3 linked regions of the Homo sapiens genome follow. The protein of the gene in region 2 purifies or fractionates together with the protein of the main gene of each other region. This does not show direct contact. Each region holds a gene or a part of one and is shown on either strand. Other genes may lie near its edges.

Region 1 (3,656 bases), on a different chromosome or scaffold from region 2:
ATGAATATCCCTCCACTTCAGAGTGGTTACCTTGTGAAAATATATGTAACCCTGCGTAAGTTCATCTGATCCTTCTCCAGAGAAGATCACCACGCTATCTGTGTTCTTCCGAATATACTTGGAAATTAAATACATACCTTAAATGAGAGAGAGAAATTAACTTTAATGTCAACATAACCTTCCACCAAAAATGCCTTTGATTTGATTTTTGGAAATAATTGAAAGCTTTACTACTATACTGGACTTCATATTAATATAAAGTAGTTTCCACAATAATGACCTTGTATTTATAAGCCATTTATATGTACTTAATCCAAAAGTACTACTGTAAAATAAAATAACCCGGAACCATTTTGTCATTTTCTAAACAGGTTTTAAAATTCTAATGTTTTTAGACCAAGAATGTCCACCTCAAAACTTTGCTAAGCTGAACAATGACTCAAATACCTAAAAATCATGCCTTTCATAGTGGTATTATGACACAAAAATAAGAATAACCGTTTTGGTGGTTTAGTGTTAATTTTGATGGGTATTTTCCCCCTGCCACTCCCCATTTACCAGATTTCACATAAAGCTGGGGAGACTATATAAGTTATTAAACTTGCCTCCTTGGTCCTGCACCACATCTCTCTAAACCAGTGTTTCTTCTCAACCTTGTTTTTATTATCACCTCAGCTAGAGAGCCTTTTTAGACACTTATTTTCCTAACCTCACCCCAGCCCCATGAAATTCCAATACCAGAGCTATCCTGTCTATCTGCTTATTTACTGTGATGTTTTGGAGGGCCATAAACCATTGTAATACCTAAGATATTTTTGCCTTCCAAGGCAAGTCTCTCAAGGGAGGCAGTAGCATATAAAGGCTCAATAACACTGGATCAGTCTGATTTGGGGTATACTTCCAATCTCAGTAGATACATTATCTACAAGATAAAATTAGTATTGTTTGCAGAGCAATGATAGCTAGTGACTGGTAAGTTGTGTGATGGAATATATCTAAAATGACTATTTCTTATCAAAAATGCATTACCAAAAAGACCTATTTCCTCACTGTATATAGACTGTAGCCCAAGAAACTATAAGAGAAATGGGAGGTAGAGGGCAGAAAATATGTATCTGCTCCCTGGGGAAACACCAACAGTGACACCAACAATGTGGAGGTTGAACTACGTATTTACTATTCCCTTCACTCCAAAAGAGATTCAGAGAATTCTTAAGTGGTCTTAAATAATCAGTAACATAGGGATTTAATTTGCATTCATCCTTAAATAACATTTTAAAACTATGGCTTGAAATAATTTTTTTAAACCTTACATTTTTTTCAGTATTAAAAAAAGCTTTTTATTTAAGAATATCATAATACCTTACCTACTGAAGCACGAACTGTTGTAATGTCATAAGTTTCCAAGGAAAATATGACTTCATCCAGAGCCTGAATGCCTTCCTCAGAGTTAAAAAGGACTTCATAATGTTCACTTCCAATATGATCTGCCACCTTATTATATAAAGAAATACCCATTTACTTGTTAAAGAAAATAACTTCCCTTGAAAATCAAACATGATGGGAGTTCACAAAGCTTTATGAATTAACAATGGTGAAAACTAAACAAGGGAAAAAAAGAAAAATGACTTTACAGCCCACCACATACAAGCCCCATCCAGCACTGTTCCCTCGCCTGCTTCAACTCCACCACCAGGAAGTAAGTCTCCCCTCAGCTCCTCTGGTGCCAAGGCTTCAACCATTCTCCCAGTTGGCACCTCCCTCTCTACCTATTTTACCTAACCCACCTCATCTCTCTCTAGTCCAACATGGTCCCACGCTAAGCTTGGTCTTTTTTGGTCCTTCTTAAATGCCTAATTTTATATCCAGGATGTTATTCTTATATAGAATGGCCCTTCCCCTCATTCTGCTTTCCTTGGCTATTTTGGATTCTCTCGGCATTGATTACCTTGCACTGAGACTGCTCTCTAGCTTTTTCTCATCCATGCTACGAAAGTCCTCCATAGTGGGAACTAGGTCTCCCGCTCACTGAATACAGACAAGCTGCCCTCTGCCCACAGTATTCTAAATACAGTACTTTCAAAAATAATAATAACAGCTAACACTCATTAAGTACTTACTACATGCTAAGTTCTACCCTACTTACTTTACATGAATTATATCATTTCACCTTAAAATTTCCCCATAGCAGACACTATTATTTTGGTTACATAAATGAGTAGAGCCAGGATTTCAAACCACAAGTCAGGTTCCAAAGTCTGCAGTCTTAGCCATGATACTATGCCTTTACGTTTAAAAAAAAAAAAAAAAAAAAACGAACAAAAAACCCGTTTTTTTAATTTTTCAAGATGGGGTCTTGCTACGTTGCCCAGCCTGGACTTGAACTCCTGAGCTCAGACCTCCCCCCACAGCCTCCCAAGTATCTGGGACTATAGGTGTGTGCCACTGCACCTGACTTATGCCTTTACTTTCTTTTTTTTTTGAGACAAGGTCTCACTCTGTCACCCAGGCTCCCATAAGGCTAAGACTACAGGCATGCGTCACCAAGCCTGGCTAGTTTTTGTATTTTTTTGTAGAGATGGAGTTTCATTATGTTGCTCAGGCTGGTTTCAAACTCCTGACCTCAGGTAATCTACCTCCCTCAGCCTCGTAAAGTGCTGGGATTACAGGTGTAGGCCACCATGCCCAGACACCTTTACTTTCAAAAGAGCATACTTATCATCATAGGGTCTTTGTGAGAATTGCATGGGTCATAACAGATAAAAGTACACAGAGGACAGTGTACAACACAGTGCATATCCAACAGCCATTTCATTCTATTTTAATACAATCAATTTAAAACAATTGACCCAGTCAATACAGCAGCAGTAGAATCACCCATTATTGACTCCATTTTCATTCTAATAACAAGTCTACTCTAACTACACTACACAAGGGACAGAGACAGCACCTTACCTTTCTAGCAGCCAGTAAATCGGGGCTGTCTTCCATGCCAATTGCAAATGTCTGGAGAGGATACTGTACTTGGGCTTCTTTCAGCTGCTTCAACAGAGTGGCAGCAACCAAGCTGGAGTCCAAGCCCCCTACATGCAAAAGAGGAAGTGGAAGTGTCCTAGTTATGTGCCTTGCATAAGACAGGGACAGAAGATGTATATTCCTGATAAACACCAAGATCATAGTTTTACTATTTAAAATCCGCCAAGTTTTATAAACTGAAATCAACTTCAACAAGAGAAAAATATATAAACTGTGATAATAGTAGTATTTGAATTGGTTAAAAATCACTACACAGAATTCTAAAGAACATTCACTGACTCACTCTTAACACCAATAACATAGCTATAGTGTAACTCAAGTTGGAGTATGACTATGACTATTAAATACAGCTTATAAAAAATCATTTCCATCCTATAATGAAGGAAAGAGTAAATCATACAGTAAATATTTTATAGTAAAAACCAAAGGGATGGCTACAAATCATTTCAATTAAACACACATGAAATATAATTAGGTTTTTTTAATTGACTTCACCTGATAAAAGGCAGCCAATCCTTCTGTCTGTCATCAAACGTTTCTTTACAGCATTATTAAAAAGGATCCTGAGGTTGTTCTTCACAGTTTCTATCTCAAAACCTATAAACACAGCAGTAAATCAA
Region 2 (3,656 bases):
ATATGAATTTGCCTACTATCTATATAATGTTTAATATTTTTCCATATCAACATTTTAAATCACTAAAACAACTTTTTAAAAATCAAATTGAGTTATCAATTTTATTCTAAGAAAGTATCTGCTAACCACACCAACTGCAAAAACTGAAAAAAAAAAAATCTAAAGTGACCCAAATATATTTAACATTATACCATTAAAAAAAGATTCTTTTGAAAATGAGAAAGTAAAAAGATCTGGAAAAAAAACCCCTATTGTTCCACTAGCTGCTATAAATTCTGTTTAATTATTTTTGTGTCATTTTTAAAGCATGCTCCCTCCTATTACCTAAGACTGTTTGTCACTCTGCTTCCCCTGCTCCTGCCAACCCTGATCACATGGTCTCTTCTCTCCCCTCCTAGGACACTGAGCATCTTCGAGAATGTCACAGAATCACACACGTTGGGCCCATTACACATGTATGGTATGAATTATAATCATATTAAATGCTTTTCAGAAGTGCATCTCCCCCATCTCTTCACCCTTGGGCTGGGTCTTCTGGTAAAATCAAGAGGAAGGAACAGATTATGTTCTGGTACAGTAAAGTGAGAGGGTGTGTTTTTTTTTTTTTTTTAAACTAATAGTTAAATGAAAACAAAAATCAGATTAAAATATATTTACAGCAAGTTAGTACACTTCTCAAATTCAAAGTTACTCTAGTGTTTAGTAATCTTTTACACATTGTTCTACTTAATTTTATTCAGTAAACTTTGCTTACTTTTTGGATCTTTCAGCACTTACTGAAAGCCCTACTAAATTATCACAAATATAAATATATGGTGTCTACTGAATTAGTGTGCTAACAGAACTTCTATGAATTAAAATATATTTCATATTTACTAAGCACATTTATGCAAAGAAAACTCACTTTTAGGTTTAAATTTTCGTTCTATTTTTACTCACAAAATTTCTTACTTTTTTTGCAGATACTTTATGAATAAAATTAAAGCAGCAGGAATTTGGGTTGATGTGCCAGTATTTGTCTTGAATCAAAACTCAGTACATGTCTCCTACTACCTTTACCAGATAGTCTTATAAGAAACATAATCTTTTTCTTTTTCATAATTTGGGAGGAACGGAATCATTAGTAAAATTCTAGTATCTCTCAAACATCAGATTCAGAACTTGAAGCACTTGCTTTTCATGTGGGATAAGCTCATTACTAAATAGCTTCAAGTGTTTAATACGGAAAAAATAGGATTACTGAAAACCAAATTGGCTTTTCATAAGGTTTGTTTTGATGTTAACAGTAATGTCTAGGTTTGAATTCTGATTATCATAAATAGGATACTTTAACAATGTAGCATATATAGAAATCACTCATAAGCACTATTAACTGAAATGAATCACATGGCAGGGCTGCAAAACTTTCCAATTTACACCTGCAGATGTTACTTTGGACCAACTCTATTTTATTGTTCAAGCTTGACACAATACTGGGTAGGTACTGGGTGCCTATTACTACCTGATCTTTTTACTTTATTATTTGACTTGGGCTATCCCTTAGGGCATCACATACAAAATAGAAAAAACAGACAACACTGAAGTGTCAAACAGTTGTAACTAAAAAGGTAAATACTCATTGAGTCCTGGATGTTTTATATGCTAGCAAATAGGTACAAAAAGTTACAAGGGAAAGGAGGCGAGGATGTACAGGTGGACCCAGAAAAGTTAATGTCAAACCAATATTGGTTAGGTATTTAATTTTCACATACAAAGGGCAACATCACTATAGTCGAGTATGGAAAGAAAGTTTTACATAATCCAAAAGTGCCATAAAATATATAATCCTTACTTAGATTATTAGGTGCTGTCACTGAAAAAAGAAAAAAAATCTGGGAATAAATGTATATAGTTTCTTCATCTCGACCTTTTCACCAGATATAATTCTGCCCTCAGATGTTAACAAATCATTTCTTCAAGTGTATAAATCATATATCTTTAAGAATCATTTTATAAGTCACCATGACTAACAATAATAATTTTCTTGGCCTATCAACCTAAAGAGAAAAGAATTTATCATTTAAACCAGTACCTTAATATTAAATACATATTTCATAAGGATTTTGAGCCCAATTAATCCAATACCTTTAAAAAAAAATGACAGGACCATAAATCTGTTTTTATAATCTTCCAATCTAAACTCCAAACTAAAAAGTTATATACAAATCAAACTAGTAATAAATTGAAATTGTTTTTGTTTCAAACCCCCAAACTCTATATTTTGTGCTCTTTTTCTCCCAACCAGTATTTAATATTTTCAAAACTAAAACACCAACTACTTGAGAATCTTCAATGCCTATAAAGAAACTTAATTATGTGTTTGCATGTTTTAATAACAATTCACTTTTATAACTGGTGTTTACTGAAAACCTGTGAATAAATTACTGAGGTAGTTTACTGTTTCTTTAAAGGAACTTCACAAAGAATTCTGAGCAAAGATGTCCTCTTAATAATGCATATAACATATACATTCAGGTTTTCCATATCATCTTCTCTTAGAATAGTACATATTAGTAATGTGATAACTATGTCTCCAAATTCCATCCAAAAGTTGGTTTTAAGTAGAAGATGTTTTATTTTATGACTTATTAGAAAAGTAAAACATTAAAAAGAAAAACCACTAACCAATACTCCTCAGTGCTTGGTTTTTGGTCATTTTTTTATGCAACAGAATTAAAATATTTTCATTCAATTTTTTCATGATAGAATTAAAATTTTTTCATGCATATTATAAAGACTGCAATATGTACGCGGATTTTGATGCTCAATTCCACAGAAAGCTATGCAAGCAAGGTGGGTGTTTTAGAGATTAGACCATTTAGGTTAATATGGTTCATTTTCTCTCCTCTCTCAATAAAGTATATTACTAATCTACAGATGGCAGTTAAGTGTACTGGTTAAAAGCTATGAAAGTTTGGACAGGGGAAGTAGCAGCTCACTCCTGTAATCCCAGCACTTTGGGAGGCCAAGGTGGGCAGATAACCTGAGGGAAGGAGTTCAAGACCAGCCTGGCCAACATGAAGAAACCCCATCTCTACTAAAAAAAATACACAAAAATGAGCCAGGCGTGGTGGTGCATTCCTGTAAGTCCCAGCTACTCAGGAGGCTGAGGCAGGAGAATCACTCGAACCTGGGAGGCTGCAGTGGGCCGACAATGCACCACTGCACTCCAGCCTGGGTGACAGAGTGAGACTCCATCTCACAAAGAGAAAAAAAAAAAGCCATGAAAGTTAATTACCCTCCCTGAACCCATTAAGTGATGAAAGATTAATAATATAAAGTTCAGTTCGTGCTATATAGTAACTGCTCAATAAATGTTCAGCTCTTATGACCATTCATATTAATAATTCAACACCAGTTCCTATTTCAGCTGCTTTCTTTTATAACATGGAATCTTCCCCCTATTTTCCACATCTTAGAAATCATATTGGAAAACCTCCTACCTTCAAATTTTCAAAAGACTTTTCCACTAAAATACTAATGTGACTAAATATTTAGATCTGGAGAAGTCAGCCTTTATCTGAATGATGTTTTAATGAAATGTTCAAACCTGTGAATGTTCTCTGAAATATATCAGTATACTGATTTATCATTTTAATTATAGATCAGCATGTAGC
Region 3 (3,656 bases), on a different chromosome or scaffold from region 2:
CTTGATTGAGAATTAGTTTTAAAGACAATATTTTGTCCAACCACTCTCAAATAAAGGTCCAATAAACTCAGGCTACTCCATTTATCTTTCAGGTAGAGCGATCCTTTCACAGTTTATCGAACCCCTTTAAGCAAGCTGTGAGTTCATAAGAGAAGGGGAAAGTTCTGGACAAAGACCTCAAACGCCAAGATGATGTTCCAGCATGCCTTCTACCACCACTTATTAACCTTTGAGTTTTGCCAAATGCTATTAACTTTTACAGAAAAATATTTAACACACAAGAAAACCTGAAGGGGCTGGGGAGAAAAAACAGATGCATTTGCCCAACCAGATTATTAAACATATATATTAAAACAGACAGTAATTTTTGAAGTATGATTTTACCACTGGAAGAGACAGAGAGAGAAAATAATTAAGAGCCCTGAAAGAGAATGAATCATATATGAGAATTTATTAAGAATGAGTGTGTGGTGGCTAATGACTATAGTCCCAGCTACTTGGGAAGCCAAGGCAGGAGGATCACTTGAGCCCAGGAGTTTGAGTCAAACCTGGGCAACGTAGCAAGACTCCAACTCTAGAAAAATAAATAATTAGTAGGTAACATATTAGTGGAAAATAGGCACTTTAATCAATATATAACATATATTATTAATATAGTTAGCTAGCTATCTGGAGATGGAGGTAAGAGTAAAGAACTGAATTTCTATCTTACTCTTTAGATCAAAGTAAATTCCAGATGGGTCAAAGATTTTAAATAAAAAACAAGGACAATTAGGATAGGAATGAAAGAAAATATAGGTAAATGTTGTGATCATCTTCAGGTGCAGAATTAGTCTCAAAACATGATACCACTGCCACACAAAAATGCAGCACTTCCATAAGGTGCCACATATCACAAATTACGACTGGGAAAAATATTCAAAATACATCAGACACTTAGTACTCTACAAGTACAAAAAGCTCTTACGAATAAGGTAAAAATCCTGGAGTTGGGCACAGTGACACACACCTGTAACCCCAGCTGCTTGGGAGGCTGAGGCAGGAAGATCGCTCGAGGCCAGGAGTTCAAGACTGGCCTAGGCAACATAGCAAGACCCCATCTCTACTTTTTAAAAAAAGATCCCAATAGAAAAAAAATGCAAAGATTAGGAAAAGGCAATTAACCGGATACATATGAGTGGCTGATACATCAATTCTGCCTTGATGGTAACCAAGGGAAAGACATCACAACATGGGATGCTGTCCAGCTACCACCGGCAGCATCAGTAGGAATGTGAACTGGCCAGCATGGTCAGGAGAGTCTGTGATGAGAGTGTGCCCCTGACCCAGCAGTTTAATTTCTAGGAATTTATCCTCGGACTTTTAGACTAACATACAAAGATGTATGGAGCACAATGTTCCTTATAGTGTTTCTTGTAAATGTAAATACCAATCAACAGGGGATTGTTTAAATGAGTTGTAGCAAATCCACAGAACAGATGACACAGACAATAAAATACATACATTATGTTACTGGAACAGAATGATCTACAACATAGCTAGAGGAGTTTATACAGCAGCAAGGCTAGTGCAGAGCCATTTTCATAAGAGTCCATCTGTATAAATCTGCACAAATGTATGCATGTTAAGTTACTTCCAAAGGGGTAGCCAAATTATCAGCAGTGCTAGGATTTCAGGTGATATTTAATCCTGCTGTTACATTTATTGATATTATTAGAAATGTACAGATAACATATATTTTATGAGAACAAAAGAGTAAAAAGGAGAGTAGATTATATAATCTTACATATATAATGTGATGCCAATTTTGTTCAGAAAAGGTATAGATCTAAATTTTTTATAAAACAAATTGTAAGATTTTTTATTTTTATTCTTATTTATTTATTTATTTATTTTTTGGAAATGAAGTCTTGCTCCAGGCCGCGGTGCAGTGGCATGCAGTGGTGTGATCTTGCCTCACTGCACTCTCTGCCTCCTGGGTTCTAGAAATTCTCCTGCCTCAGCATCCCATGTAGCTGGGACTACAGGTGCACACCGCCATGCCCAGTTAATTTTTTATATTTTAGTAGAGACGGGGTTTCACCATGTTGCCCAGGCTGGCGTCGAACTCCTGAGCTCAGGCAATCTGCCCGCCTCGGCCTCCCAAAGTGCTAAGATGACAGGTGTGAGCCAACGCGCCCGGCCAAGATTTCTTATATATTTTACATCCAACTGGTTTATCTACAGAGGAATGTTTTCTGACTCTGTGCCTTTGACACTTCCACAACAATATTCTGCTCCTCAATAAGGAAAGCACACTTGATCCTGTCACGAACACACTTAGCACACACGGAACCACCACAGGCCCTGCTGACATGTGTTTCTGTTTTAGGGAACCTCACAAGAACTTCAGGTCTCATAGCACGAACTCCTCGAAGTCTGGCTAGGCACATGCCACATGCAGGTTCAGGTGTTTTCCCAACCTTCTTGATGTAAAGGTGAATAATTCTCCCACCAGGGGCTTGGGACTACCTAGTTTCACTAGAGGCTGCGTGTCAAAGGCTGGGCCATTCTGAATGCCAGCTCAAAGGACTGTCCCTGGGAGCTCTAGGCTCCCTCAATGGCAGCCAATTGTAAAGGAAATAAGTGTTTTATTCTTTTTTTTATTATTATAAGTTCTGGGTTACATGTGCAGAACGTGCAGTTTTGTTACACAGGTATACACGTGCCCTGGTGGTTTGTTGCACCCATTAACCCGTCACCTACATTAGGTATTTTATTCTTTAAATATTCTCATACCACAGTGAACATCTAATCTTTTATAATAAGAAGGAAAGAGCTGAGGACTTTGATGTGTGACTTGGCAACGTCTTCCTGCTGCCCTAACTCACCCTCATGCCGGGCATTCCTTTCTACGAACAGGGCTTTCCCAGCTCACACGCCAAAGCCTTAGGCCTCTAAATGGGTTTGAAAGCATCACAGTGGCAGGAGACAGCAGAAGCAGACTAAAAATGGCAGCCTCCTGTATCTTGGGAGGTGCTAGAGTAGATTTTAGGACATGAAGATGTTTAGAGAGCAGCACATTCGTACCTGCATAGCCACTGGAAAATCATTCTGTGCCTCTGGAGGAAAAAACACATCTACTGCTTTCTTTACAAAAGGTTGGTTTCCCGCTGCAGGCTGTCCAACTTCAATGATGTGCAACTAGAAGAGAGATTTTAGGTCAATCAAGGGGACCGCCTGTGGTGGTGGGCAAGTGCTAGTCAAGGCACAGAGGCAAGTGGAGCCTCAGCTCCACACACTGGATGATTAACGCTAAAAGTCACATTCAACCAAAGCAGAACAACCCCCTTGTCGGAGTGCCTGTGATTATCCAATAACCTGCTGCCCACCACCAAGCATGGCACAAAGGGCCAATGCCAGGCAGCCTGGAGCCTCAGTTCCAGCACAGTGGCAGAGTCACTTCCCCTCCCCGGGCCTGGATGCCGATGAAACAAAGGGCTCCAGTCAGAATCTGCTGTCCCTTCCAACTCTGCTCTCTGCCTTTCTGGGTATGGCCCAGACTCATACAAGCCTGTTAGTGCAAGATCTCATCACTGGAGGCGAAACTCACGAGACATCCTCACCATGGCACAGGCCTGAGGTTTTCAAGGTTGTGCTGGGCGGGGGTAAGAATC

Evidence for each region.
Region 1: the proteins of SNAP91 (region 2) and ASNS purify together in Homo sapiens (affinity purification with mass spectrometry; one large-scale study listed by BioGRID and IntAct). This does not show direct contact.
Region 3: the proteins of SNAP91 (region 2) and CLTCL1 purify together in Homo sapiens (affinity purification with mass spectrometry; one large-scale study listed by BioGRID and IntAct). This does not show direct contact.

The regions. Positions count from the first base shown.
Region 1 is NC_000007.14:97,855,323-97,858,978, forward strand, and holds part of ASNS (asparagine synthetase [glutamine-hydrolyzing]), read right to left. Parts: intron 3,634-3,656; coding exon 3,532-3,633; intron 3,084-3,531; coding exon 2,956-3,083; intron 1,495-2,955; coding exon 1,368-1,494; intron 138-1,367; coding exon 31-137; intron 1-30.
Region 2 is NC_000006.12:83,702,565-83,706,220, forward strand, and holds part of SNAP91 (clathrin coat assembly protein AP180), read right to left. Parts: intron 363-3,656; exon of another isoform or gene 325-362; intron 1-324. UniProt on the Homo sapiens protein: Adaptins are components of the adapter complexes which link clathrin to receptors in coated vesicles. Clathrin-associated protein complexes are believed to interact with the cytoplasmic tails of membrane proteins, leading to their selection and concentration.
Region 3 is NC_000022.11:19,236,206-19,239,861, forward strand, and holds part of CLTCL1 (clathrin heavy chain 2), read right to left. Parts: intron 3,184-3,656; coding exon 3,070-3,183; intron 1-3,069. UniProt on the Homo sapiens protein: Clathrin is the major protein of the polyhedral coat of coated pits and vesicles. Two different adapter protein complexes link the clathrin lattice either to the plasma membrane or to the trans-Golgi network.